Regions from separate parts of the Homo sapiens genome. Here all the other regions are linked to region 2. The links come from fine-mapping of genetic effects on plasma protein levels. Region 2 holds a variant in brackets. A gene starts in each other region. All regions are shown on their forward strands.

Region 1 (10,694 bases), not on the chromosome of region 2:
CTTAGAGAATATAGAAAAGACTAGAGCAAAGAATAAAATGACCCATAAATCCACTACCTACAGATAATTTCTAACACATTTGTTTGTTGTACTTTTCTATAAATTTTTACAGTCGTGAGAATAAAGCTGGGGGGTGTGTGCTTTTTAAATTAAATTATAATCATTTGCCGGCGCTTCAAAATGTTTTTGTAAATGCTTTTGGTGGCACATACAGCTGTTCCATGATTTATTTAACCCTTCTCCTACGGTTGACTATGTAGTCAATGTTAAGTTTTTTGCTGTCATAAATAACATGACTGACATCTTATGTAGAGTCCTTTCAAAAGTAATAATGACCAGGGCAAAGTGGTCTAACAGAATGATTTGAGTTCTTTGTGGAATTCAATATAGATTACAGTGAGCCCTGGAATATCTATCCATCCACAAAACAGTCAAGAAAGCTCCCCAAAGCAGATCTAAAGTTTACTAAAATGGATTAATGTCAATTAAGGCTGTATTTCACTGTGTTTGCTGCACATCCTTGTAGCTAACAAGGAAAGCCATTTATTGTTAACAAGTTAAAATGTTAAAAATAACATCCAAATAGTAAGTCTCATATAGAGAGGATTAATTTATCTTTCATTAATTATTGAAGGTTTGCTGTTGTTAAAACATGGATTAAAAACTTGCTAAATGTTACCTGGGCTAGACACCAAGAGAAGAGACAGATTAAAAGATAGCCATCTTTGGGCAGAGAGTCATGAAATGTACCCTAGATCATCCCTATCCCTCATTTTCTTCATGGTAACTTTTCCTGTATGTAACTTCATGGTAACATACAGGTTCATACCTTTCTGTACTAACTCCCTCAGTCTTGTCGCATGGTGCCTACATGGGCCAGATGTAAAAGTTCATGAAGCTATACATGGAAGATTTGTGCATTTTGCTACCATAAAAGGATCTTACAAAGGAAGGCCCTACATTAATGTAAATTAAAAAAAAAACAGCAATAAGTATAAAGCTACTAGTTACTATGTAGTTATAATAATATAAACTGTAGCTGCCACGATTTAAAGCACCTGGACCCACCACTAGACTGTAAATAATGTGAGGGCAGAGACCATGCCTTGTGCTTCACTGTGACTCTGACCTGAGTACCAGGTGCGCTCAGCTGCAGCAGGGGATAGGCTCGATGAGGACAGTGAAGGGAAGGCCACGCCATTCATGGCATACTCTCAGAGAAAGCACCCCTTGCCAAAATCGCAGGAGTCAGAATAGAGCATCCTAAACAAAAAGTATGCATTTGCCCTCTGAGGACATTAATCATCTGGCTTACAAAGTGAACCTATCTAATGTACTTTTTTTCCCTATTAACTGGTATCATTAAGCTAATAAAATTTATGTCTGTTAGAAACATTCTGCCAGATGTCCAGTTATTTGAAGAGGACTAAGACAAAGAATCCATGACATTTTCAATTCTCATATGTGATCACTGGTAATTTACAGCTCATCCTTTACTTCCTATTCTTGTGGCAGCATGTGTTGCTCTGCCCCACTGACTTCAAAGACTTTCTTTTCGTCTTTGGGGCATTTCCTCTCGGATCATTACATCCACTTCAGCCCATGACCAGATCTTCACCTCATGGTTCCTCTCCAACTTGCTTCTATGAGCCTGGGGATGGAGTCCTGGTTTCTGTCACCCAATCCAGAGACTTCTAGGGGAACTGTAACGTGTCCACCTTCTAAAGCCACTTGCGATGGCCAGGGCCTCCTATGCTGGGTGCTTGCCCTTCTGTTCTGGCTAGTCTGCACAGCCCCTGCTATGTTTTACACCCCAATTTCCAGCAATGGTCTTTAGAACTGCAACAAGTAGCTTATTTGCCAAAGGATAAACAAGCAAGAGATCATTTTAGAGATCTTTTTAGCTTTGTTAATAATACAAGTTGTGGCACCAAGAAGATGCAGTCAGAGATATGGGTTAGATGCAAGGCTTACTTGAGTCTACCATCAGAACAATTCTAAAGAACATAGAGGAGCTCCCAAATATAACCCCTAGTGTACAATGCCGATAATAGGGTACGGTGAGGTTAAGAAACGTGGCCTCAGGACAAAGCCCTCATAATCTTCTAGTATTGCATGTCTAGAGCTAAGTGAAGTACATCTATTTGTAGAATTGCTATTGTTCTCTCTTAGGTAATACACTCAAAGTTCATGGGTCAAGCATGGATCCCTTACTGGAATGAGGATTCTGAACTACAAATCAGTTAACTGTACATGTGACTTATCATAATGAATTTCTAGACCTGGAATGCTGGGAATCATAGTGACAGCAGAGACATCCACCAAGGGAGAGTGGGGGTATGCTTGGGTACTTGCCAGGGCTGTCTTCCTAAAGCAGGCAGTTGGGCCACAGGGTTCTCTCCAGCCTGCCATGTTAGAGTGACAGATATCCACTGACTGAGCTTCAAGGGCACACACACTACCGCCTGTGTTCTTAACATTTTCCCAGGCTCCATACTATGCATCCACCATCAACACTTCTCAATGAACTGTAGTAATTCCCAATGGGAGGGGGATGGGAAAGAGTAGATGAGCAGGCTCACACAGTCCTCTCCCCAGAGAATCTAGAAAAGGGATATCTGTGTAATTATTAGTGCAGGCACTCCCTCTGCTGCTGCCCTCTCTGCCTAGTCCATTCACATGTTAATCTACACACATCTAGAGACATATGCTACACCCAGTACCTTCTTTCAAGCAGACTACAGAGTGCATGGGTGTGTGTGCTCAGGTGGATGTGGCAGAATCTGGAGGGAGGCTGGCTGAAGGTATATGCTGCAGACAGAGTAGTAAGAGAGTGAGCAGGTAAGAAAGAGAAGAAGCAATCAGAAAGCAACCCTGAGGTGCCAAGGAAGTAGGACACCATGGAACACATTCAAAACAATATGACACTTTGCTTAATGAGTTTGTTTCTATTTTTTTAAATACAAGGTTTCACTCTGTTGCTCAGGCTGGAGTGCAGTGGCACCATCACGGCTCACTGCAGCCTCAACCTCCTGGGTTCAAGTGATTTTCCTGCTTCAGCCTCCTGAGTAGCTGGGACCAGAGGCGTGTGTGCTACCATGCCCAGGTAATTTTCTTATTTTTTGTAGAGATATGGTCTCACGATGTTGCCCAGGCTGGTCTCAAATTCCTGGGCTCAAGCAGTCCTCCCGTCTTGGCCTCCCAAAGTGCTGGGATTACAGGCATGAGCCACTGAGCCCAGGCTCCTTTATGACTTTTGTTAATAGCTTTGTGAATCTAACCAAATGGGATTGACATAGACTGGCATTAATACTGATGACAATCACCTTTTCCCAAGTGGAGAGCACCTCTGATTCTGGTTTACTACAGAGGCTCTGGCTTCTTCAAATATCAACATGATTTGTAAAGTGATTAAATTGTTTAAAAATATGCTGAATTAAATATTTATGGTCGCAGAAAAGCAGAAAGCACCAAGAAGCCTCAATTTATTTTCTAAATTTCATTTCTAAAAAGTTCAACAATATTTGTACAATTTTAGCGATTTGAAGTTTACTAAAATAGATTGTCACTAAGGACTGTAAATATCATGATGTGACCATTTTTGCAGACTGTCCTTAGAGTTAACAAGGAAGAAATTTAAACAGCAAGCACCATTAACTACAAGATAAAAGGCTTTTAAAAAATCCAAATTACAATTCCCATAGGGAGAGGGTTAATGTACCTCTTCATCAATTGTTAAAGGTATATTATTATTAAATGGATTAAAAACTTGCCAAATCTTACTTGGCCAGGCACCAGGAGGTTGGAATAATTAAAAGATAATAATCCTTAATAACCTGGAGCCATGAAATGTAACCTAGCTCATACCTACCCCTCACTCTTTTCATTGTAACCATTTCCATACACTGTGAGTTCACAGCCTCTTTTCTCCCCCAACGCACTCTGTTTTCACATCTCAGTACTTCTCTATTTTGCCTTCTTCCCTGTAGTTTGCCTGGGAATTATGTGAGAGCACTGGATGCTCTTCTACCTCCAGCAGGAAATTGCTGCTGGGGGAACTTCCTACCAGGGATAAGTTTTCCCTGTGTGGAAGGGGGTTGGGAGGGGTGTGTGTCTTGCAGGCCGCCTAGAATAGATTCCAGACCTTGGGCCACACAGCCTGGTAAGTCAACCAACAGCCTCCTCACACCTCATATTTGCATTCCAGTTCACTGAGTGATTTCACACACTGGCTGGCAATTCTTGAGCCTGCTGGAAAACCAACCAGGGATTCACCTCATCCATCACTGGTCTGCAACTGCCTTTTGAGGGCCACAGCAGGGGATGGAGAAATGTTTCTTAACCAGGGCTACATCAGCCAGTGAAGGGGGATACGCTCTCAAATGCAAACCCTGGAAAACCAGATGGATAAGAAGCAGACCTGGAGTTCAAGATGGGCTCCAAAGGTAAGAGAGGTAGGTTCAGATCCTGCTTCAGAGCTAACTAGTTGTATGACCCTGGGCAAGTTACCTAATCTCCTTAAACCTGTTTCTTCCTCTGTAAAATCGGGATAATAAAACCTACATTACAGGGTTTGGGAGCTTTAAAAGAAGTAACTGCAGGTAACGTACACAGCCCAGTGTGTGGTAAACAAAAATGTACTTGGTAAATGTTAAACCATTGTGCTTGGAAGTGGTGTGGGTTAATGGTCAAGAGCCTTGGGTCCGGAGCCAGACTGTTTGGGTTCAAATCCCACCCTTAGCATTTAATAGCTGAGAGCATTGGGTAACCTTCGCTGACTCAATTTATCTGTCATTAAAATGGAATTTTATTACAACATAGCAGATATTTAATAAATATTAGCTACTTTTATTTCATTGGCAGTAAAAACAGTTGATTGAGTTTCCACCTCAATCAACAACGTAGTAGTGAATTAAATGAGAATTCAGTACAATGCGTATTTTTTAAAAATTGTGAAGACCTTGTATGCATTTATGACTTTTTTGGGCAGAGTCAAGCTGCGATGCTAAGGGTGTGGTTAAACTGTAATATGAAGGAAAAAATTCAAACAGGGAGCATAAACCACCCACCAGGGAGCTATTTCTTTTGTAATGTGCATTCCATTTCTTCTCCCTCATGCTTTTTAATTCCTTCCATATTTCCTGCCATAATTATCAAATGTTTAGTTTCTGACCTCACTTTCCTGGAGACTGGAGCCCGGGGAATTTAGAATTGTTTATTTTCTGTCCATAAACCTTTGAGTTAATGGAGCGGCTTCTGAGCAAAGAGTTTGTTGGTTTGTTTGTAGTGTCTCAGGAAGGTCGTTAGAGTTGAAAAAATTGGTACAAAAAAACAAGCGCTGAAATGCTTTAACTGGAAACTCGAGCCCCCAAAGAGCAGAGCAATGGATCTTCTCTTACACTTGCGCAACGTTACAGGGAACACTTGGGAAAAGGCCGTTACATTGCCCAGATGATAACACAAAACCCGAGGACACTTCACAAAGAAGAAAATACATTTCAGAGAATCATGATCTCACTTTAAAAGAGAGAAAGGAAAATTAATTTTGCCCCAAAAGAAGAATCCCGATTCCTCTGCCCCCGCCCCCAGGAGACAGACTTGGGAGGGAAAAGTCCCCAACTACTCTCAGTCTCCTCTGAAGTGAAGGACGGAACTGAGGCGCCTTTTTGAACTCGCTGCTGCTCCAGTCGCCGCCTCGTCCCCGTCGGCCCAGCCCGTCCCCTCTCCTCCTCCCCGCTCTCCCTCCATGTTAGCCGCGGCGGGGCTCCCGCTTACGGCCCGAACTACTTTTCCTGCTTTAAAGATTTAAGTTTCGTAAGCAGCATTACTGCCCCAGCTCCACCCCAGCACACCCCAAGGACCGAAACTCCCAGCGCCACCCCGGGAGAGCATCCCCAGGACGCGCGCCCACCCGCCCAGCGCGCAGACCCAAGAGGCCCCGGGGACCGAGTTCGGACTCCTCGGCCCCTCGCCTACCTCGGCGCGGACCCAGGCGACCGCCACCAGCGCGAGCGCGAGCGCGAGCCAGCGTTTCCACATCTGCGGAAGAGAGAAGAGAGCGAGTCTGAAGGCGCCGGGCCCCGCGCTGACCTGGGAAACTTGCTCGGGTCCCGCAGGCTCGCTCCGGCCGCCCAAGCACCCCCGGCCGCCCGAAGAGTCCGGCCTCCGCGCCGTGCGCCCTGCGCTCACCGTGGTCTGGTCCAGGTCTCCTGGGGGCGCGGGGCAGGACGGCGGCAGCGAGCTGTAAGCGGAGGTGGGAGCTCCGCCGATCGCCAGCCTCGGAGGAAATGCGACCTCCCCTCGCCGCCCCTTAAGACCTCTCCTTCCCCGCCTGCCTGCCCCCCCAGCTCCTCCCCATTCTCCTCCCCCTTCTGCTGCAGCGGCCCCCGCGGCTCCCGCTCCCCCTCCTTCCGACCCCTGCTCCGGGGAGCCCGCGGGAGTCCTGGCGCCGCCGAACCCCTCTCTCCGCACGGTCCCTCGTCCGGCGCCCCTTCGGCCCCCTGGACGTGGAGCGGAGGCAGAGGGGGTGTCCCGTGGGTCCCTGCCACAAAGGGGTAGGGGGAAGGGAAACCCCACCCCGGGAGGGGCTGCTGGCTGGCGGCGGCCCGGGCGGGCTGCGGCGGTGGCCAGGTGGGCGGTGCCGTGGGGGGCCCGGGAAGGTCCGGGACTGGAACCTGGAGGAAAAGACGTCCCGCGGCCTAGGAAGCGGAGCCGCCCCCCATGGCTGAAGGGGGAGGCCCAGGGAGGCAGAGGAGACCCCGCATCCCGGGGTCACGGCAGCAGGGCAGCGGGGCACCGGGAAGTGGGCGCAGGGCCGGGAAGACCGGCCGGCGTGGGGAAGGCTGCTGTGGGTTCTACAGTGCATTGTCCCGGGTGAGGTGGCGGCCGCCCTGCTCTGCTGGGAAGATCCTGAGTCCAGCGTTTGCCGGCAGCCTCATCCCCTCCTTCCCTCGGGCCGGGGAGCGGTGTCCCCCTCCTCTCTTCCGCCCACTCACTCATCACCTGTGTCCCTCCTCCCATCCCTGTCATCCCAAGTAGCCTCTGTGTTCAGGATTGCCATCTTCACCACCTTCTTCCCAGCCCTTGGCCTTCGAAAGTGTGCTACCTCTTTGACAGGGTTAACTCCCTAAAATGCTCCTAATTAAGGCGCCTTTCCTGCCATAACTAGTAAGGAGAGCAGATCCACTTAGCAACTCAGATTTCACATGCCCAAGACTAAGCCTCACTTCCCCCAGCTTCAGGGCCTGCTTATCTACCTCTTTCAGGGTGGTTGCCTTCAAACCTATCTCCTTTTCTCAGAGCCGGCTTGTACCCATAGCCTGGCAGTTTAGCCGCTGAGATCTCATATGCATCCCCTCGCCTCCGTTCACATGTCCACTTTCCTAGGCCAGACCTTCATCCTCCCTCACTCAGAAATTCTGGAAACCTCCTTTCGTTGTCCTCTGACTCCAGGCTCTCCCCTGTAGTCTCCACTGCAATCCATTGTCATATTCTTTCCCTTATTTTAAACATTGTCTTCCTCGTGTTCATGTTCTTCCTCTACTCAGAAACTTCAGCGTTCTTCTACCCACATCAAATCCAAACTCTGCCTTTCTTATAAGCCCTGCATTACTGGGCCCACCCTGTCCATCTAACTTCTCTTCAACTACATCAGCATACTTCCTCCGCTCAAAGCAGGCCCATCTCCTCGTTGTCCTCTGAACTTGTCATACTCACTCTGCTGCCAAGGTTTGTTGAGTGCCCACTGTTGTGGCTTTAGGGGGCTTCAAGATAATACCCATGGTCCCCATGTAAGTTCAGAATCCACTGAGATAGCAACAGGAGTCAGACTTATGGAGAGCAAAATGTCAGCTTTGTCTCTGCTAAAGGCTGGAATGGCAGCCATGGCTTTAGATCTGCAGGGACAGCGGGCCCAGAATTGAACATGTCCACTCAGTCACAAGCAGAGCTGGAAAACCTGCCTGTGTAAAAACTAAACTGCATGGAAAAGCAGAAAATATGTGCCTCCTGGGACATGCCTGCTCCCCAAACTTGAGGGGGTAGAGTGACACATCCCCAGTTCTTTCAAACTCTCCAGTCAGACAACTTACTCCTGCTCCCTTGTTATGGTAATAAGATTAGGGAATAGATGTTCCGCACCAGATACTCTGTCTTGGTCACTGTGCAAGGATTGAAGGGAACTATTGTGGATAAAGTTCTGCCCTCGAATAACGCACAATACATTGCATCCCTTGCAGATCCACTGCACCCTCTCAGAATCTGGTATCATCTTTCCTCCCTTCCTCTTATCTACTAAAATGCTTGGGTTTGTTTGTTTGTTTTGTTTTCAGGAACCACGTCAAGTTTGCTTCCTTCATATCTTTTCTGACAACAGCTTGGCATGGTAGAAGGCACAGGAGGTTTGAGGTCAAACCAATCTGGCTTTCCATCCTATCACTGCCATTTACTAGCTGCATGGCCTGACTTGCATCAAATAATAAGCCCTCTGAACCTAGGTTTCTGCCTCTGACAAATGGCAGTGATAATGCCTTGCAGGGAGTTGTGAAATTTAAGCAGATGCATATAAAAAGTGCCTGGCAGGTAGTAGACCTCTGTATGTGATAGCCATTATTATTTCATGATCGGCTTTGCATCTAAATTGTAGTTGGTACTATACACCAGGTACTATGAAAGCCATTCAACATCTCTTATTTTATTTAATTTTCACAATAGATAGAAAGGAGGCTGGGCACGGTGGCCCATGCCTTGTAATCCCAGCACTTTGGGAGGCCAAGGCAGGCGGATCACTTGAGGCCGGGAGTTCGAGACCAGCTTAGCCAACATGATTAAACCCCGTCTCCACTAAAAATACAAAAATTAGATGGGTATGGTGGTGGGCACCTGTGGTGCCAGCTACTTGGGAGGCTGAGGCACCAGAATTGCTTGAACCCGGGAGGCAGAAGTTGCAGTGAGCCGAGATTGTGCCACTGCACTCCTGCCTGGGCAATAGAGAGAGACTCCATCTCAAAAAAATAATAACAATAAAAAATAAAAATTTAAAAAATACAGTAAATGGAAAGGTCTTTTTTATTGCTTCCGTTTTCCAAATAAAACTGAAGCTCAGGAAGATTTAGATACTTTCCCAAGTTTATACTGTTGGCTACACAGCCTTACAACTTGGGGCATTATATTGCAGACTGCTATACAATGTTTAACACTTGTTCTCATAGTTATTCTTGATTCTCCAGCTAGTTTTAAGTTGCTTAGAGCAAAAACAATGTTTTTCATATCTTTATCCTCTCTACATTTGGAACACAATTAATGGATTTGAGTATATCAAAATGAAATGAAAGATTCCTGTTCAACTGAGGGCACCATAGACAAAATGATAGAAGGAGATATAAATGTCTAAAACTGACATGTAACTCATAACACACACACATACACACACCCTGCAAATCAATCAGAAAAAGAAAACCCAATAAAAAAGGGCAATAGGTATGAATAGGCAATTCCCAAAAGGGGAACCCCAAATGGACAATAAATATAGAAAAGATACTCAACATCACTACTATTATTTAAATTGCACAACAACCATTTGAAATCAGTATTATTTTATTATCTCCAATATACAGATGAAGAAACACACACAGAGTTTAAGTAGTTTGTCCAAAGTTATACAGTAAATTATAAATGTCACTTTACACTCATCACAGTGGCAAAAATCAGACAGTTGGACAATATCAGTGTTAGCATGTGACTAGTGCAATCTTTGTGGTGTACTGTAGCAATTAAAAGCATGGGTTTATGAGACAGACTGCCTTGGTACAAAATTGCCTTGGTAGTAAATCTTAGCTTTACTACTTATTATGTAACCTTGGGCAAGTTACTTAACCCCTTGCATCTCAGTTGCCTCATCTGTAAAATCGTGATAATTGTACTGATTTCATAGAGCTATTGTGTAGATTAAATGTATCAATATGTAAAGTACTTAGAATAGTGTCTGGTACACAGTAAGCATATAAATAAGATGTATTACTACGGAAATAATTCACTAGAGAGCTCTTACAGGTACTGATGATAAAACTGTGCTGTGGCGTATGGTTAACTCTACAATAAATAAAGCAAAAGACAAAAATAAACTATGCAGTGGAGAAAATATTTTGAAATGAGATATTTGGAAATGTCTTATCATTAGGCTATTTTGTTATCCAAAACAATAAAAGTGTGGCACCATAAAAACTCTCGTGTATGCACATTTTAAAAACTTACACAAAATTTTCTAACCTGTTTAAAAATCTTCAGACAGAATTCCAGTGGCTTATTTACTCATTTGTTGAAAATATAAAAATATAATAACTTGGGACCAGCATGGTGGCTCACACCTGTAATCCCAGCACTTTTGGAGGCTGAGGTGGGATGATCACTTGAGCCCAGGGGTTCGAGACTAGCCTGGGCAAATGTGGCAAAACCCCGTCTCTATAAAAAATATAAAAATCAGCTGGGTGTTGTGGCATACCCCTGTATTCCCAGTTACGGGGGGAGTAGGGGGCCAAGGTGGGAAGATCACTTGATCCTGGGAGGTGGAGGCTGCAGTGACCCATGATTGCACCACTTTACTCCAACCTCCGTGACAGAGAGAGACCCTGCCTCAAAACAGACAAACAAACAAAAACTAACCAACCAGCCAAACAAACAAAAAACCTTTCAATTAA
Region 2 (9,398 bases):
TATTTTTCCCCCTTGGGAGAATGGGGATAGGTGAGTTTCAGGAGTCCACGGATCACATTCGAGCAGTGCAGGTTGCACCTGTGAGTGAGTGGGCAGCCTGTCCTTTCTCTAGGGTGAAGATGTGTATACCTTAGGATGGGATGCATGTTTTTAAGCTTCGTGTGACTCTTCATAGATGAGCGGGATAGAAGTAGGCACAGCAGCAGATCAGAGCGAGATGGAGGGTCAGAGCGTAGCAGCAGAAGAAATGAACCCGAGAGCCCACGACATCGACCTAAAGGTAGACTCACTGTTTTGGTGGCTTGTGAGGATTCAAGTGTATAAAAGGCAGAGTGAGTGACTCTCGTCTTCAGTGAGATTGCTGAGGCATTGAGTCAGAATTCCCGATTCTACCATGAACATCTTGGGATAGTTGGTTCTGAGTCAGGTGGGCACAGCTCTGCACTTGGGGTGGATATGGTTCCTGTAAGGTGAGAGGCTGGTTTGCTGAATGGCCAGTTTTCCAAATGGTAGGAAAGAATAGGGAGCTGGAGGTAGAAGAAGTGTTTATTAAAAAGAACTACTTATATCCAAGAAGGGTGTGTTTGTAGAGATAAAGTAAATATCCCTTAAAATGTTGTCATAAACACAGAATGCAAACTGGACCATTGGCTAGGTGCAGTGGCTCATACCTGTAATCCCAGTACTTTGGGAGGCTGAGGCAGGCAGATTACTTGAGGTCAGGAGTT[C/T]GAGACCAGCCTGGCCAACATGGTGAAACCCCATCCCTACTAAAAATACAAAAATTAGCCTGGGGTGGTGGTGGGTACCTATAATCCCAGCTATTCGGTAGGCTGAGGCAGGAGAATCACTTGTACCCGGGAGGCAGAGGTTGCAGTGAGCCAAGATCACACCACTGTACTCCAGCCTGGGCGACAGAGCAAGACTTTGTCTCAAAAAAAGAAAAAAAGGAAAAATACATCCTGGACCATTAAAAATTGAGATATCTTTAAAAACTGTCAAAACCGATCTTAACCGTTATAGATACATGCAAGGTTTAGAAATAGTAAAAGGAGTAAATTTGGGGAATTGACTTTTGGCAACTGGTTCTAGACCATGTCATGGTTAAGTGAGATGTTTCCTGTGGATGTGTCTTTTGTGGCCCAGATGCAGCCACCCCTTCAAGGTCTACCTGGGAGGAAGAGGACAGTGGCTATGGCTCCTCAAGGCGCTCACAGTGGGAATCGCCCTCCCCGACGCCTTCCTATCGGGATTCTGAGCGGAGCCATCGGCTGTCCACTCGAGATCGAGACAGGTGATGTTCTGGGCAGAGCAGCCCAGTTTCGCTGGGTGGGCGGTAAGGAGCCTCGGCAGGGAGAGCAGATGGTGGCCAGGAGGACGTGGCTTAGCTCAGTGACAGTTTTGTGATGCTGGTGCTGCTGTTCCCAGGTCTGTGAGGGGCAAGTACTCGGATGACACGCCTCTGCCAACTCCCTCCTACAAATATAACGAGTGGGCCGATGACAGAAGACACTTGGGGTCCACCCCGCGTCTGTCCAGGGGCCGAGGTGAGGCCTGTGGGGCAGCAGGCAGAAGAGCAGGCTTGCTTGCCCTAGCGAGGATGAGCAGGGGCTGCCCTTCTGGAGCTGCATGGCCCTGCAGATCTGTCTGGGGCCGCTGGGGACAGGCCAGGGCATGGACTGACCTGCTTCCTGTGCTCCTCCAGGAAGACGTGAGGAGGGCGAAGAAGGAATTTCATTTGACACGGAGGAGGAGCGGCAGCAGTGGGAAGATGACCAGAGGGTAAAGTTTTATACCTCTGAGGGGCTGATCGGGGCTGGTGGCCGTCTGTAGATGGGTGACCCTCTAGCAGGACTGGGCTTTGATGAGGGTACACCTGAGCCCTGTTCAGACCCAATGCCCTGGAGTCTCTTTGCAGAGGCATAGACGGCACGGTGAACCCTGTCACTCACTGCAGTAGGCTGACCTAACTGTTCTGTTATGTGTTGGTGCCACCATGTGGTAAATCTAAGAAGTGCTATCGTGATGGGCTGCCCTCCAGTCCTGTGTAGTTGCCCACTGTGGTTCTCCTCCAGATGGCATGTGTCTGCAGGGAGGCCTCTCCTGCACCCCTCACAAGGGTAGCTCCACTGCAGTAGTGACTTCCTACCAAGCGTCCCTTCTTCTGTTGGCCATGTCTCGTGCATAAACTTGATCTGTCCCTCACTCCCTTGCTTTGCCTCCTGCCCTGCAGCAAGCCGATCGGGATTGGTACATGATGGACGAGGGCTATGACGAGTTCCACAACCCGCTGGCCTACTCCTCCGAGGACTACGTGAGGAGGCGGGAGCAGCACCTGCATAAACAGAAGCAGAAGCGCATTTCAGCTCAGCGGAGACAGATCAATGAGGTGAGGCTGCCTGCAGAAGTTGGAGCAGATTCAGAGCTGGAGGTAGAGCACGTGGGGAAGCAGCAGGTTATCCCCAAGTGAGGGCAGCACAGCTTGTCCCCTGATTGCCGAGAAGCCCAGATCCTCTGGAGGTGGAAGAGGAGTGGGTGATGAGCCTTTTAGTAGCTTAAGGAAAGCCCCGGCTCGTACTTCTCTCTTTTGCAGTACTTCCTTGAGGGGAAGTACTGTTGATGGGAACAGGTGCATTGGGACCTGCCTCTGTGGTCTGTGTTCTTTGTGTCTCTGATGTGGGCTAGGGACACTTACCATTTGTGTGTCCCTCTAGAGGTTCTGATTTAGATGAAAGGTGCTGCTGCTTGGAACAAACTCCTGCAGGTGATTTGGGATCAGCACCTCTTCTGTCTTTGGAGCTGTGGGTAGAGGCCTGTGACATCTTTGCAGCTACCAGTGGCCTTCTGTCAGGACTTGATGTGTGGACTTACCTCATAACCTTTCAGGACGACCTTTGGGGTGGCAATTTGAGTGTGGCTCCCATTGTGTCCTCACAGGATAACGAGCGCTGGGAGACAAACCGCATGCTCACCAGTGGGGTGGTCCATCGGCTGGAGGTGGATGAGGACTTTGAAGAGGACAACGCGGCCAAGGTGCATCTGATGGTGCACAATCTGGTGCCTCCCTTTCTGGATGGGCGCATTGTCTTCACCAAGCAGGTGAGGCTCCTCTGTGGCCAGGGACAAGACAGCTCAGAGAGACCTGATGTGGGCCAGGTGCAGTGGCTCATGCCTGTCATCCCGGCACTTTGGGAGGCTGAGGAGGGTGGATCATTGGATACCAGGAGTTCAAGGCCTGCCTGGGCAATATAGTGAAACCCTGTCTCAAAAGTACAAAAATTAGCCGGGTGTGGTGGCAGGCACCTGTAGTTTCAGCTACTCGGGAGGCTGAGGCAGGAGAGTTGCTTGAACCTGGGAGGCAGAACCTGCAGTGAGCAGAGATCACACCACTGCACTCCAGTCTGGGCGACAGAGCAAGACTCTGTCTCACACACAAAAAAGGCCTGATGTGGAGACAGAAAGAAGAGAAGGGAGAAAATAGCCCTGTACCATGAGAGGGTAGCAGTCCCTTTCACAAGTAGGGATCTTATGAACATGGCCTTCTTGCTGATTTTAACGGGCATCGCTCTTTCTCCCCACTGCTGCAGCCGGAGCCGGTGATTCCAGTGAAGGATGCTACTTCTGACCTGGCCATCATTGCTCGGAAAGGCAGCCAGACAGTGCGGAAGCACAGGGAGCAGAAGGAGCGCAAGAAGGTTGGTTTCTTGGTTTCGTGGCTGGGAAGTTTATGTGTATTTTTTTCTTTTTTCTTCTCTTCATAAGTCTTACTAGGCCCACAGATAGAAGTTAGGAGTCCCCTCTATCAAGTCCTTAGGCCCGACAGCTGCGGGGCCTGGTGTTGGGAGAGCTGGAGGCTTGAGGATTGGAATGTGGCTCGGTGCCACCAGCACTCTGGGGGAGTTTACCACCTGCGGGGTGAAGTCTGCTCTCCCGTGGGATTGATTTTCCATTGCTCGCAGTCATGTGGCAGGATGGAGCAGACTGACCTTTTTCCTTTTCAGGCTCAGCACAAACACTGGGAACTGGCGGGGACCAAACTGGGAGATATAATGGGCGTCAAGAAGGAGGAAGAGCCAGATAAAGCTGTGACGGAGGATGGGAAGGTGGACTACAGGTGGGCAGCCTCAGCCAGCAGCACATCAGCCTTGCTCCAAAGATGGGGGCCCATGTGGGCAGTTGCGGCAGAACCCATCGACTTTGTGGCTCCTGAGTGGGAGACTCTTAGGATACCTCTCTGCATCTTCCATTCTCTCTGGTCCCTTCCTCCTGGTCTCTTCACTGTCCTCCACTTTTCCTATATGTGATTCCTCCTCCCTCACACTGCTTCCTCTGGTGCTGGTGTTGTGAGAGGAAGGAGGCCCAGGGAGGTTAAGTAACTTGTCTGAGGTCACCCAGCTTGTCAGTGAGGGAGTTAGGATCAGACCCAGGCCGTCTCACATCAGAGCCACTCTGCTGAAGTACCTCCCAGGTGTTCAGCATGGGCAGCTGGGTTTTAGTCCCTTAGATTTGAGTTCACTATAAGAACTATTTTTAAAAGAGGTTCCAAAATAGAAAGGGTTATCTTATTGGCCAGTGACTTCTCTGCTCATAGAGGCATCTAAGCAGATGCTGAGTTGGGATTCCTGCATTGGGCAGGTGGCTGGACTTATCTGTCCCTTAAGATCCTCATCCTTCGAATGCCCTTATGTTCTACTGAACGGTCATCTGAGTTAATAATTCTCTCCACTCCTGTGTGAAATGTCCATACGAGAAGTTGGTACTATTGATCAGCCCTTATTCTTCTCTAGTTAACTTAATTCCTCAGGTATTAGTTATTGGGTGACCAGGAGGGACTGGGTGAAATTAGAAATAGGAAGCTCAGCAGAGCATGGGGCGGCACATCAGACAGGAAGTCTCTGGGGAGGGGGTTGGGGAGGGGTGTGTGGACTGTGTGGAGCACTGAACTGGTGTCTTTTTGCCAGGCAGCCTTGAGAAAGTGACAGTGCTCTGCATCTCGGGTGTGTACATGTGTCAGACATTGAGAGCTTTCAGTAGAGGTTGCAGGTTACTGTTTAGTGGGGCTGTTTTCACAGTTCTTTGAAAACAAAACCGTACAGACTATGCTTTCCTGCTGTCCTGCCAAGAGGAGGGAGGAAGTTTGACCCATGTCCCGTGCTCTGCACCCTTACCTCCTCACAAGGCCTGTGTGGCTATTTTAGCCCTTTAGACGTTGTGCTGAAATTGCCCGAGGGTATTTTCTACAAGTTAGTGACCTGGGGATTGATTTCCACTCCTCTTCTGCTCACTCTGTTTTGGTTAGAGGGTTTGCTAATATGGTGATCTGTAAATCCTCCGATCCATGTTCAGCTAGCTCTGTTGGACCCTGTGGTGTCGAGTGTGTTGTGGATGATGGATTCTCAAGTAGCAGTTTCAGTCCTGAGGTCGATGAGAACCATCTCAGATTCCCTGGCTGCTTTGGTGTCTCAGACTCTTGCCGAAGTCCTCATTCCTGAGCGTAGGAAGGAGGGCAGCAACCCAATCAGGAAGGACAGCATGGGGCACCATGCAGGGTGTTTAGGCTGCTGTGTGTTCCTAGGACAGAGCAGAAGTTTGCAGATCACATGAAGAGAAAGAGCGAAGCCAGCAGTGAATTTGCAAAGAAGAAGTCCATCCTGGAGCAGAGGCAGTACCTGCCCATCTTTGCAGTGCAGCAGGAGCTGCTCACTATTATCAGGTAACTTCACCCGGGGCCCAGGAATCTAGTGTCAAGTCAGGGGTGCCCTTGGTCTCCCATGTTTACCCAGGAGCTCTTTTTCTTTTGTGCATTGCACCCAGTGGAGAAGGGAAATACTTTTTTCCTCTGACCTCATGCCTGGGGTACACTGCACAAAGTAACGGGATGGCACCATTTTGTTTTAGCTCACCTGTTTAAACCTCACCGTATTCCAGATGTTTCAGGTGTTATCTCAGTAAGAGGCTGTTGTCCCAGTGAAATTCTCCCTTCTAAACCGGCATGCTCCCTGGATAGCTAGTCATGGGGATAGGAGGTAGCGGAGTCTTCTTGGAGGCTGGGTGTTGGCCTTCCACTTCGGCTGATAAGCCCTTTGCCTGCTTGTCCTTGTAGAGACAACAGCATCGTGATCGTGGTTGGGGAGACGGGGAGTGGTAAGACCACTCAGCTGACGCAGTACCTGCATGAAGATGGTTACACGGACTATGGGATGATTGGGTGTACCCAGCCCCGGCGTGTAGCTGCCATGTCAGTGGCCAAGAGAGTCAGTGAAGAGATGGGGGGAAACCTTGGCGAGGAGGTGAGTGGGCGTGGGGGCTGAGCCATGTAGTTATTCCCTAGTAGCTTCCACCCATTTTTGCTAAAGGGTGTGATCTGCTAAGACTCGGACCCCAGTACGGGGTGTGCTGGTGGTGAGCCGGTGGCCAGGGCATCTGAGCCATCTCTCTGACCTCCAGGTGGGCTATGCCATCCGCTTTGAAGACTGCACTTCAGAGAACACCTTGATCAAATACATGACTGACGGGATCCTGCTCCGAGAGTCCCTCCGGGAAGCCGACCTGGATCACTACAGTGCCATCATCATGGACGAGGCCCACGAGCGCTCCCTCAACACTGACGTGCTCTTTGGGCTGCTCCGGGAGGTGAGGGCTGTGTGGTTTGGTCTCTCTGCGCATGGGGTGTTGACCAGTGCACCACCAGTAGCTAGTGGGTTGCTCCAGGTGGGCTGAGGGGGTCTCTGGTAGGCCAGAGGTTCCTGAGGCCTCTGGTTGCAGTTCAGACTCGGGTTGTAGTTCATGCTGTTCTTGCTCTGCTGAGGGTGGCTTGGGGTTTTCTGGGCAGTGGCTCCATTGCTTCAGTCTTCATGATTGGTAAGAATTGAATAGGCCCATTTGTCAGCTTTGGCTTGTGTTTCCTCGGGGGTGGTGCTGATGGGACTGGGGGACAGGAGCCAAGGGTCCCCACCATGGGGGCCTCCGAGCCGCCTCTTCTCTCAGGTAGTGGCTCGGCGCTCAGACCTGAAGCTCATCGTCACATCAGCCACGATGGATGCGGAGAAGTTTGCTGCCTTTTTTGGGAATGTCCCCATCTTCCACATCCCTGGCCGTACCTTCCCTGTTGACATCCTCTTCAGCAAGGTATTGAGGCCACCATGTTACGAACTGACCCTTCCATGCCACGCACTTCTCTGATGCGAAGCCGGCTGGAGGGTGGAGGGTGGGTAGGGGACTGGGTTGGAGAAGATTTCCTGGGGACCATGGGGCAAATGGGGCAGCCTGCAGCTCTGGGACTCGGGGACAAAGGACTCTGCTCTGGGTGAGGTTTTGTTTCATTATTTCTTTGAGGCTGAAGTACAGGGCCCAGGGAGGCACTGTGCCCTCTTGTAGAGGCCTCGCAGTCAGGCCCATGTGGAGGTGTGGTGGCCCTCAAAGTCCATGGCTCCATTCCAGAGCAGTGCCTGGGCCACTGGGCTCCCAGGAGATGCCCGGCCTGCGCTTCTAGTACCTCCCTCTGACTGTGTCCCCACTGCTGTTGCAGACCCCACAGGAGGATTACGTGGAGGCTGCAGTGAAGCAGTCCTTGCAGGTGCACCTGTCGGGGGCCCCTGGAGACATCCTTATCTTCATGCCTGGCCAAGAGGACATTGAGGTGCGTGCCTTGGTCACGACTGTGATGAGCGGGTGTGTCTTGCATATGAGAGGTTAGGGTTCCAGTGTCTCACAGCTCCTCCCTGGGCTCTCAGGTGACCTCAGACCAGATTGTGGAGCATCTGGAGGAACTGGAGAACGCGCCTGCCCTGGCTGTGCTGCCCATCTACTCTCAGCTGCCTTCTGACCTCCAGGCCAAAATCTTCCAGAAGGTGTGTCAGCAGGAATGTCCAGGAGTGGCTCTTGGAGTTCTCTAAAGGAAGCGAGAGGGGATGTGACTGTCCTGGCAGGGGGTGGGCTAGGAGGTAGGCTTTTCCCCCTCGCGGAGCCTTTCCTGTCTCGAGGGACTCATTTTTCCCTTCCTGTATGTCCTGCTCTAGGCTCCAGATGGCGTTCGGAAGTGCATCGTTGCCACCAATATTGCCGAGACGTCTCTCACTGTTGACGGCATCATGTTTGTTATCGATTCTGGTTATTGCAAATTAAAGGTAAGAGAAGACATGGGAGGCAAGGCCTGGGTGTTCACCAGAAGCTAACTTAGCTGCGGGGTGGGAAGCCAGGGCCTCGCTCCTGGCCCTGGGATGTGGGGAGCGCGTGGAAGTGGTGGTGGTGGTGGGAGGCTCACATTGACTCACTGTGCTTGGTTTGTTTAACCCTTGTAATACTCGATGAGGTAGATAATTTAACAGTAGAGCTCAGAGAGCTGGTGTTTGTGGGGAAGACTTCTTCAGGTGTTCATGAGAACATTTCTAGAGCCTCCTGGCTCTTCCTCTGCCATGTGTAGCAACCAGGGCTTGCCTTTGTCTCAGGCCTACTTCCACTTTCCCCTCACTCTGTCCTTCGTCAGCTCTTTGCCGTCCCCTCCTAGGTCTTCAACCCCAGGATTGGCATGGATGCTCTGCAGATCTATCCCATTAGCCAGGCCAATGCCAACCAGCGGTCAGGGCGAGCCGGCAGGACGGGCCCAGGTCAGTGTTTCAGGTAGGAGCCCTGTGCTAGCCTGCTTTCTGGGGCAGCGCTGGGGTTGCTGAGCGTGGAGCCCGGGCGGGGGCGGGCAGGATGCTGGCTCTAGAGCTGGTCCCCAAGGCTGGAAGCTGCTGGCAGGGCTGCCACTTGTTAGTCCTTTCATCCTATGCTACTGAGTGGAAGGAAGGAGTGGCTTTCCAGGGATTTCAGAGGTCTGAGGCCAACCTACGTGGATGTAGGTACACATGCAGGTAATTACAGCCTGCCTCCCTTCAGAGGGTAGGTCTGGACAGATGATGCCATTGGTTCTTTTTATTTCTATTGTTCTCTTTCCCCATTTTCTTTCTTTCTTTTTTCCAATTAGAGACAGGGTCTTGCTCTGTCACCCCAGGCTGGAGTGTGGTGGTGCAATCACAGCTCACTGCAGCCTTGATCTCCTGCACTCAAGTGAACCTCCCACCTCAGACTCCCAAGGGGCTGAGATTGCAGGCAGGCACCACCACACCTGGCTAATTTGTTCATATTTTGTAGAGATGGGGTCTTGCTATGTTGCCCAGGCTGGTATTGTGAACTCCTGGCTTCAAGCGATTCTTCTGTCTTGGCCTCCCAAACTGTTGGCATTATAGGTGTGAGCCACTCTGCCTGGCTCTCTTCCCCTTTTTTGTTCCAATTAAAAAAATTAATGTATTCACTATAGAGCGTTAGTGAATATAGAAAAATATCAAGAAAATAAAACCCAGCCATGATTCTAGTCCCAGGCCCATTGGTTCTAGAAATGAAACAGATGGCTGGGTGTG
Region 3 (8,000 bases), not on the chromosome of region 2:
ACAATCACCAGAACTCAAAAAAAAAAAAAGTTTAAAAAAGTTTAATTACAGCCTCCCTTCTAATCAGGAGGAAGCAGTCTAGACATCTCTGTATAAACCTGGAAGCAAATGAACGGAATCCACTTTACCACATTCCTTTGGTCTAATTGATCAGGTCTCCAGAATGGGCTTTCTGCTTTGTAAAAGTGACTCCATTTTAAGGGATCTGCTGTGCAAACCACACACAATACTCTGTCCTCCTTCTGAAGGGCAATTGTACAGGTGGGTGGGCTGACCATGTTCTGAGCAATTAGCTTGGAACTTGCCCCGAATGTGAAACTGATACTTTCTGCTTTTGTTAGAGGCCAGAAATATCAGCCTTTATTTAAAAAAATTTTTTGAGACAGGGTCTCCCTTTGTTGATCAAGCTGGAATGCAGTGGACTGATTATCGCTTACTGCAGCCTCGACCTACTGGGCTCAAGTGATCCTCCCACCTCAGCCTCCCAGACAGCTGGGACCACAGGTGTGGACCACCACGCCCAGCTAAGTTTTAAAAATTTTTTGTAGAGACTGAGTCTATGTTGTCCAGGCTGGTCTTGAACACTTGGGCTCCAGTGATCCTCCCACCTCAGCCTCCCTAAGTGCTGGGATTACAGGCATGGAGCCATTTTGCTCCCGGCCAGCCTCCTTTTTAAAAATGAAGGAAAAGTATTCTGATTCTGAATATTTTACACTTTGTGTCTTCTTTTAAAATTACTTTTGACTTTGTATAAATATGACCCCTGAAATCTAAAATTTGGGCCCTCTTTTAGAAACAGGTAACACCCTGAAATTTCACTGTGGTCTTCCTGTATCAGGGTACCATGGCAACCAGGGCATTTCGTAAAAGCAAGCATCTGATCCTGATATCTAGTTGGGAACAGCACCAAATGAGGAGAGGAAAACGGGTTCGTTCAGTGATTGGAATCACCTTGCAAGACGCCTGTCATTGCTGGAATCCTCTTTACCCAAGTGAAGATGCGGTAGAGGGGGGTGGGGAAACCCAAGGGTTTTAAAAAGAGGATAAATCACCTTTAATGCACACTTCCAAAACTAAAGTTTTAAAAAACACACACACAATCAGGCCTTTTGGAGGCTCTGGGTCAGGGCAGCCAGGGCTGTCGGCAGTCCTGCCTTTCCATACTCACCGCGCCGGCAGGAAATGTGTGGCGGATGCAACTGTGCAAACTGAGATGGGGCGAAAGGTTGAGCTACAAGCCTAATCCCGGGACTCCCCGGCTGGCTGCGCTTCCTATCTGGATTGCTGGAAGGATGCGGAGTCCCCAGGGCCTGCCCCTTAGGTCTGGACGGGAGGAGGCGCTAGCAGAGCCTCGAACCCCGCTCTCAGCCCTCACCTGCAAGTGGCTGACGATACAGTAGGGTTCGGGCTTGTGCAGCCCGCACGTCGAGGTCACCGAAAGCTTCTGTGCTCGGCCGATGAGAAGGTCGCCCGTGGCGGGATAGCAGCTGCCTTCTGCGCAGCCGTAGCTGAACTCGGGTTCCTGAGCGCGCACTCGGGCTCTGCACAGGGCTGCGGGAAGGACAGGCAACAGAGTTGGGGGGACACAAGCAGGGAGTGGAGCCCGAAAAAAACGAACAAGCGGGGGCGGGGGAGTGGGTGCGGAGAGAGGACAGTCCATTCGGAAGAAAGCAAAATGCACAGAAAAGACAATGGAGAGATGAGCGCAGGAGAGGCTGGGAAGGCAGGGACTCCGAAAGGAGAAGGACACGGAAAGAAACCCACACACGTCATCAGGTCTGTCCAGCAGCGAGAGCCTCCCTCCCGGGAAACCCACCGACGCTCGCGCCCACCCTGATCAGCCCCGGGGAGCAGCTCCCCCAACAAAGGGTGGATGTGTAGACCCTCCACTTCGACGTGTCCGGAGCCCGGCGCAGGGAGGCTGACCCCCAAAGGGCCACACACCCACGCACGTGAACCCGCGTGCACGCGGCAGCCCGCGCATCCTCGGTGTGAGTGTGCGCGTGGAGATCTGTGAGCTTGGGAAGCGAGAGTGCGTGTGCGTGCACGCGCGAGGGTCACCGGCGCTTCGCTGGGGACGAGGCGCCGGGGCTCGCGGTGGACGCCGCTTTCCGGAGCTAGGGGAGCCCATGGACAGTCCCTGGGGCTCTGGAGTGGTTTCAAGGCTTCTCCATTCCAGGGAAGCGCCAGGTCCTGCTGTTTCTGGTGCCATCCGGAGACAAACAGAGATGGTTAATTAAAGCCACATGGCCCCCATCTGTTCCCAGAATGAAGCCTCCGCTCAGCTCAGGCACTCTCCTGGGCAATGGATTTTTGGAGAGCCCTCCTCGGTCAGCACCGCCAACCCCAGGGAACCTGCCCTCTGCGGTGGGGAAACCCAGGGTGAACCGGCCGAGGGTGCAAAACCCTGAGCGGGGGCCGCGGGAGGCCGCAGGGGCCGGGGCTTGGGCGCAGAGCCCGGGGGATGAGGGTCCGCGGCGCTCCGCGTGCGCTGTCTCCAGCCACCACCGAAGCAAGGGCGGTGGCGTTTAATCCCAGGGGCGTCATTTCCATCCAGTCCCTCTCCCAAGCCCCCAGGATCCCACGAAGGTGAGCAAGCAGCTTTTGGGTTTTCCTTCCCCATGCCCAAGTCCGTCCGCCTCCCCGCACCGTTTCCACGGAATTACCTAAGAAACTGAAAGCTAGCAACTGGAGAAGCCCCATGCCGGCTCCCTGCAGCCACGGGGACGCGGCAGAGGAGTGGAGAAGACGCCCGCCGAGCCGCCTGCCCTTTCTTCCCGTCTTCCTTTCTGGAGAGGTGGAAAGGAGGGGAAAAAAGGCAAATGTTCAAAGAGAGAAGAGGCGCCCTTCCATTTCCTGTCGCTCCCACGGAAGCGGGGGGTGGGCTGGAAAGTGGGGAAAATCGTGCAGCCACTTTGTTCTCCTCACCCGGCGACGCGAGCTCTCGCCCTGCTCCGGGAGCCCCCGAGCCCAAAGAAGGGAATTAGAAAGTTTAGCCTTGGGAGGAACAGAGGGAGGCGCCTCTGCTCATGCGCATACGGAGAGCCGGGGCTGAAGGGGCGGGCGGCCGCAACTCTGCGAGGACCGGGTGAGGTCCCGGTCCCACCCCCCGGGGCGCCTCTTTTGTTTGAAAGCCGAATCTGCGATCGCTGCGGGGCTGGGGCGCTTCCAGGTCCCAGGGCGGGTCCGCCCCGGGGTGCGCGTCCCAGAACGGCGCGCGGCGGGGCCGTCCAGCGAGGGGGGCGGATGCGTGGGGGCGTCTCCGAGGTGGGTTTTCAGGTTGCCCAGCCAGGGGGCCGGCGGGACCTACCGCGGACTCGCGCATTTACGTTCGCAAGAAGTGAATCACCAAACGTGCCCACGGCTAAAACTCTCGTGCGGTGCGCTCGGGGAAGGCGGGTTAACCCTTTAGAAACAGGGTCGACCTGTCGTGTTTGTTCTTTAGAAAGTGACACTTCCTCTCCGCCCCTAGTATCCAAGAGCTTGGGATGGGCGCGACATCTACAGTGTCTTCCTAGGAAGGAGGAGAAGCTCTGTGCGCCCTGCAATTCTTTGCGCACACATTTATTCAGGACCTATCTGTAATCCCTGTTACCCAGGTGGTCACGGCATTGAATTGAACGTCCAGTTCTGTTTTTAAAAAATCTACTTCCAACATGGTGCAACTCCATCTCTACTAAAAATACAAAAATTAGCTGGGCGTGGTGGCGGGCGCCTGTAATCCCAGCTACTCGGGAGGCCGAGGCACGAAAATCGCTTGAACCTGGGAGAAGGAGGTTGCCGTGAACCGGGATCGTGCCATTGCACTCCAGCCTGGGCAACAAGAGCAAAACTACGTCTCAAAAAAAAAAAAAAATCTTCCTACCTATATCCAGATGATGGCTTTAGCTCAGGTAATTCCTCAAATGACACTATTATTGTTACTGACTCCGTTTCCCATCTCGCCGTGGAAGAGTTGACACAGCCAGGAAGTGGAAATCTCTCATGAGAGGCACTTCCCCACAACGCTCATCTCGACGATTCTCCATGGTGTGCAAATGCTGAGGTGGGGAGAGGGCCTCTAATGAAGGGTCTCTAACAACACAGTGTAACCTGCCTGGTGAAATTAGGGGTACATAGAAACTCACCACCTTCTAGGGGTTGGAGAGGGAAAAGAGGTTGGTGACGGGACCCCACCACCCATTCTGCTACCCTTAGCAATGGACAGAGTCAAAGCTTGGAGTCCTGCTCTGGGCAAATGTGGCTGGAATTCAGGGAGTATAGTTAGTTGTCAGTCCAGTCAGGAGACTTGGCTTGTTTTCCAGTCATTTCCGGGAGAAGAGTTTAAGCGGCTAGCTGGTCAGTTTTTAACTTAGCTGTAACGAAATAAGGCCCAGAGAAGTTTAATCATTAGACCATAGAGTCAGCTGCTTTACGAGTTCGTAAGCCTGCACGAGTCTGAGGCAGGCGGGAGCCTTGGGGTCTAGGTGAGTGAGGCATTAATTATTCACCAAATCAGCACTTGCCCTGCTACAGCCTGGGGAGGTTTTGCCTCTGCTGAGGCTTAGGATCCTCTGCGCCGGCTGGGTAGCCTGAAAGCGCTGAGAAAGTCCTTGCTGTTGGGAGGCTGTAGAATTGCAATGGAGGGTCTTCAGGGCTTAATTAAAAGAAAAATATTAAAAGGCAAATGTCTTTTCTTCCTGTTGAGCTTTTAATACCCTGGGCCAGAGTTTCGTATTTTCATGTGCACACACTGCAAGCATCTTTCAGCTCCTTTTCTTTCTTGAGCCTAACCTCTGCTCTCACAGCAGCTGAGCCCTCCTTGCTACCTGTCCCTGCTCAGCGTCCTCTCCCCTTGCAAAAGGTCATTTACTTTCAGCACTGTTCAGAAGCCTACCTGCTCTCCTGATCACCTCACTTGCAGTAGTAAATTGAACACTACTGAGAAAATTAGGTTTTTAAAAATTTGCCTGTATATGTGCAGGGGGAGGAGTGTGTGTAACACTCACCTTCTGACCACTTCATCTATGAATTTGCCTACCTCCCTTCCCACCTGTATCTTTTGTGCTTCTCTCCTAGAAGTGTGCCCTCCTCTCATCTACTAAGTTCAGTGCTCTCATATACTTGCTCAGCCTCCTCCTGTTTTAAGTAAAAACAACACAAACTCTACATTGTATGGAATCAAAGCTTGAGCTCTGGAGATTTGCTCATGGAATCAAAGATTGAGCTAAGGAGAAAAGAGTTTCAAGAGGGAGATCTTGAAGCATAAGCCACAGAGATCAAATAAGATCACAATGGGAAAATGTCCATTGCATTCAGCAATTAGAAAGCCAAGGGTGGCCAGGCATGGTGGCTCATGCCTGTAAGGGGTGTGAGGCGGGTGGATCACGAGGTCAGGAGCTCGAGACCAGTCTGTCCAATATGGTGAAACCCGTCTCTACTAAAAATACAAAAATTAGGTGTGGTGGCAGGCGCCTGTAATCTCAGCTACTTGGGAGGCTGAGGCAGGAGAATTGCTTGAAACCGGGAGGTGGAGATTGCAGTGAGCCAAGATTGAGCCATTGCACTCCAGCCTGGCCAAAAAGAGCAAGACTTCGTCTCAAAAAAAAAAAAAAAAAAAAAAAAAAAGTCAAGGTCAGTTACCAAGAACCGTGGTGGAGATGGAAGCCACACTGCCATGGAATGGAGGAGGAACTTGGGGAAAGCAGAGCATAAGAGCAAACTATACTTTCAAGAACCTGAGCTATGAAGCCAAAGGAAGGATTGAGCAAATTCTAGGGTTTGCTCAATCAAAGCTTGAGCTTTGTTCCATACTCCTGCTCTAGGCAATGTGGCTGGAATGAAGGATAAAGACTCTATACTCCCTCTCCTTCCTTTGGAGAATCACCAAACGGTGCCCACGGCTAAAACTCTCATGCCCTGCACTCGGGGAAGGCGGGTTAACCCTTTAGAAACAGGGTCCACCTGTTGTGTTTGTTCTTTAGAAAGTGACACGTCCTCTCCGCCCCTCGTATCCAAGAGCTTGGAATGGGCGTGGCATCTACAATGTCTTCCTAGGAAGGAGGGGAAGCTCTGTGCACCCTGCAATTCTTTGCGCACACATTTATTCTTGGTAAGTGCCCTTGACTTTCTAATCTGAATGCAATGGACGTTTTCCCATTGTGATCTTATTTGATCTCTTTGTGGCTTATGCTTCAGATGATCACACCCTCCTTCTTGAGACTCCTTTCTCCTTAGCTTCCAGGACATAATTCCAGAATTTTCCCACAAGACTTTGACCCCTCCTCTCCCATTTATCTTGCCCTTCTCTGATCCCTTAAACATTGGTGCTACCAAAGGTTCTGTCTCTCTTTTCTGCTCCCTTTACTCATCCATATCCAGGGGTGCATCACTTGGACTCTCCTCAACCTCTAATTCCCATATCTCTAGCTTGTACCTCACTTGGAATTTACATACCATTTCCAACAGGCCATTGAATATCTCTACTTTGATGACCCATAGGTAAATGAAATTCATCTGTGGCAAAACTGAAATCTCTCCACCCACCTCTCCTACAACAAAATGTGTTCTGTCTTCTGTTTCCCATTTCAATTATTGGCACCATAATCCACCCCTTAGCTCAAGACGGAGATCTGGGAACAGGACTGGCTGCATGATTAGCAGGGCACAAATGTGGAGCCCCTCTATTATTATTAATGTAAAGACAGTGAAAGAGCATTAAACCTAGCATGGGACTCTCCTGAGTGGGGTAGGGGGTGCTGTGCAATTGCACAAATCACATGCCCATGAAGCCAGCCTAGCCTGGGAATCTTGGGCACCTCTCGTTCCTTCATTCCCTCCCCTCCCCATCACTAGGTCCTGTCATTTCTACTTTCCTAGCAACTAGCCAGCATGTCCCCTTGCTCCAACCTCATTGCCCTCCCTTAGATTTCAGTCTGAATGCCTGCCAGAGCCCCCGACAAGTGTTCCTACTTCCAGACTCTTCCTCTCTTCAGTCTAATCCTTCCTAATACCCGCAGAAGGATTTTTTCAGAGTCAAAACTTTGATCATGTCATTCCCTTATTCAAAAGCCTTCAATGGCTGCCCTCTGCTCCTTCCCTGTGTATGACATACTTTATTCCTTCATGGCTTTCCTTTCACTACGTGGGTCCTCCTTGACCTTGTCAACTTAGTGAACTGCACACCTTTGAAGACTCCTCTTAAACATGACTTTCTCCATGAGCCTCTCTCTCCTCCTCCTTGTAAAAGCCTGTTACAGCATATATAACATAATGCTGTAACTATTTGTTTATGCCCTTATCTCCCCCAATAGACAGTGAGACAAGGACAAGTATTGTGTAACATTCGTTTTTGCATTAATGTTGCCTTGCATAAAATGAGGCACATTACATGTGCTCAATAAGTGTGTCTCGAATGAAAGTAAATGAAGACTAGTCTCCATGTTTTAAAAACTTCCTTAAATCTTAAATGTCCACTTTTTTCTACCTTAATATGAATTTCTAGCCAAAGAGAAAAAGAAATACCACCACTTGACTTAATTTTGGGAATAATTCCAAGTTTCACTCACAAATTCTTCTCGTCTATTATATTTCATACAATTTCCTCTGATTTGTGAAGATGTGACAAGTTGAGGAGGAATGAATCTCTTCTGTTAGTAAGCCTGTCCAGGGCTTTGCTCTGGCTGTCAACACAACCCTCTCTCGTCTATCATTTGTACTAAGCTGGCACTACCTGCTTTAGCATAAAGCAGTCTTTACCAAAGAATTCTGCAGCAGTTTAAATGGCAGATGGGATTGCAAATTGTTGGCTGTTCTGTCTCAAAGAATGTGTGACAGTTATCTCCCTGCAGCATTTATTATTTTCGTTTGAAAACAAAACAAGAACTGTTTTCAAGGTCACCTTCACTTTCACACAGTCTTAGAACACCGTGTGTGTCTCCTTTGAAATCCTGATTGACAGTAGAACAACAAGGATGCTACATTCTAGACTTCAATCTTTGGGTCCTGAAATGTGGCTATTT

Which allele goes with the higher level. Positions count from the first base shown, and alleles are read on the strand shown. Strength reflects both the effect of a copy and how common the allele is.
With allele T in place of C in region 2, the plasma level of the protein whose gene starts at base 6,285 in region 1 is higher (weak association).
For the plasma level of the protein whose gene starts at base 2,979 in region 3, allele T in region 2 goes with a higher level than allele C (weak association).

The links. A credible set is the group of variants that fine-mapping cannot tell apart. PIP is the chance, under the fine-mapping model, that this variant and not a neighbour inherited with it causes the effect. The UK Biobank Pharma Proteomics Project read protein levels with antibody pairs (Olink). The fine-mapping took linkage between variants from a reference panel, not from the people measured, so its PIPs are less certain.
Region 1: it holds the start of FSTL1, and the variant in region 2 is the best candidate, but not a certain one, in a credible set for the plasma level of the FSTL1 protein (UK Biobank, PIP 0.57).
Region 3: LAMB1 starts here. The variant in region 2 is the best candidate, but not a certain one, in a credible set for the plasma level of the LAMB1 protein (UK Biobank, PIP 0.50).

What each region holds. Positions count from the first base shown.
Region 1 is chr3:120,444,708-120,455,401 of GRCh38, forward strand. FSTL1 (follistatin like 1) reads right to left here and starts at 6,285. Exons shown (of 11, transcript NM_007085.5): 1 at 6,190-6,285; 2 at 5,977-6,039. The coding sequence starts at 6,039. LOC124900546 (a long non-coding RNA gene) reads right to left here and starts at 5,947. Exons shown (of 2, transcript XR_007096030.1): 1 at 1-5,947.
Region 2 is chr16:72,097,502-72,106,899 of GRCh38, forward strand. It overlaps DHX38 (DEAH-box helicase 38), which reads left to right. Exons shown (of 27, transcript NM_014003.4): 4 at 176-280; 5 at 1,144-1,291; 6 at 1,426-1,544; 7 at 1,703-1,779; 8 at 2,231-2,386; 9 at 2,935-3,096; 10 at 3,585-3,692; 11 at 3,999-4,111; 12 at 5,573-5,710; 13 at 6,101-6,287; 14 at 6,445-6,630; 15 at 6,985-7,125; 16 at 7,526-7,636; 17 at 7,731-7,847; 2 more. Among named protein-coding and RNA genes, the nearest start is that of DHX38, 8.4 kb to the left of the region's middle. RefSeq lists an enhancer at 1,501-2,001. The variant C/T (reference allele first, on the strand shown) is at 729.
Region 3 is chr7:108,000,183-108,008,182 of GRCh38, forward strand. It overlaps LAMB1 (laminin subunit beta 1), which reads right to left and starts at 2,979. Exons shown (of 34, transcript NM_002291.3): 1 at 2,929-2,979; 2 at 2,667-2,789; 3 at 1,376-1,551. The coding sequence starts at 2,703. RefSeq lists an enhancer at 817-1,417.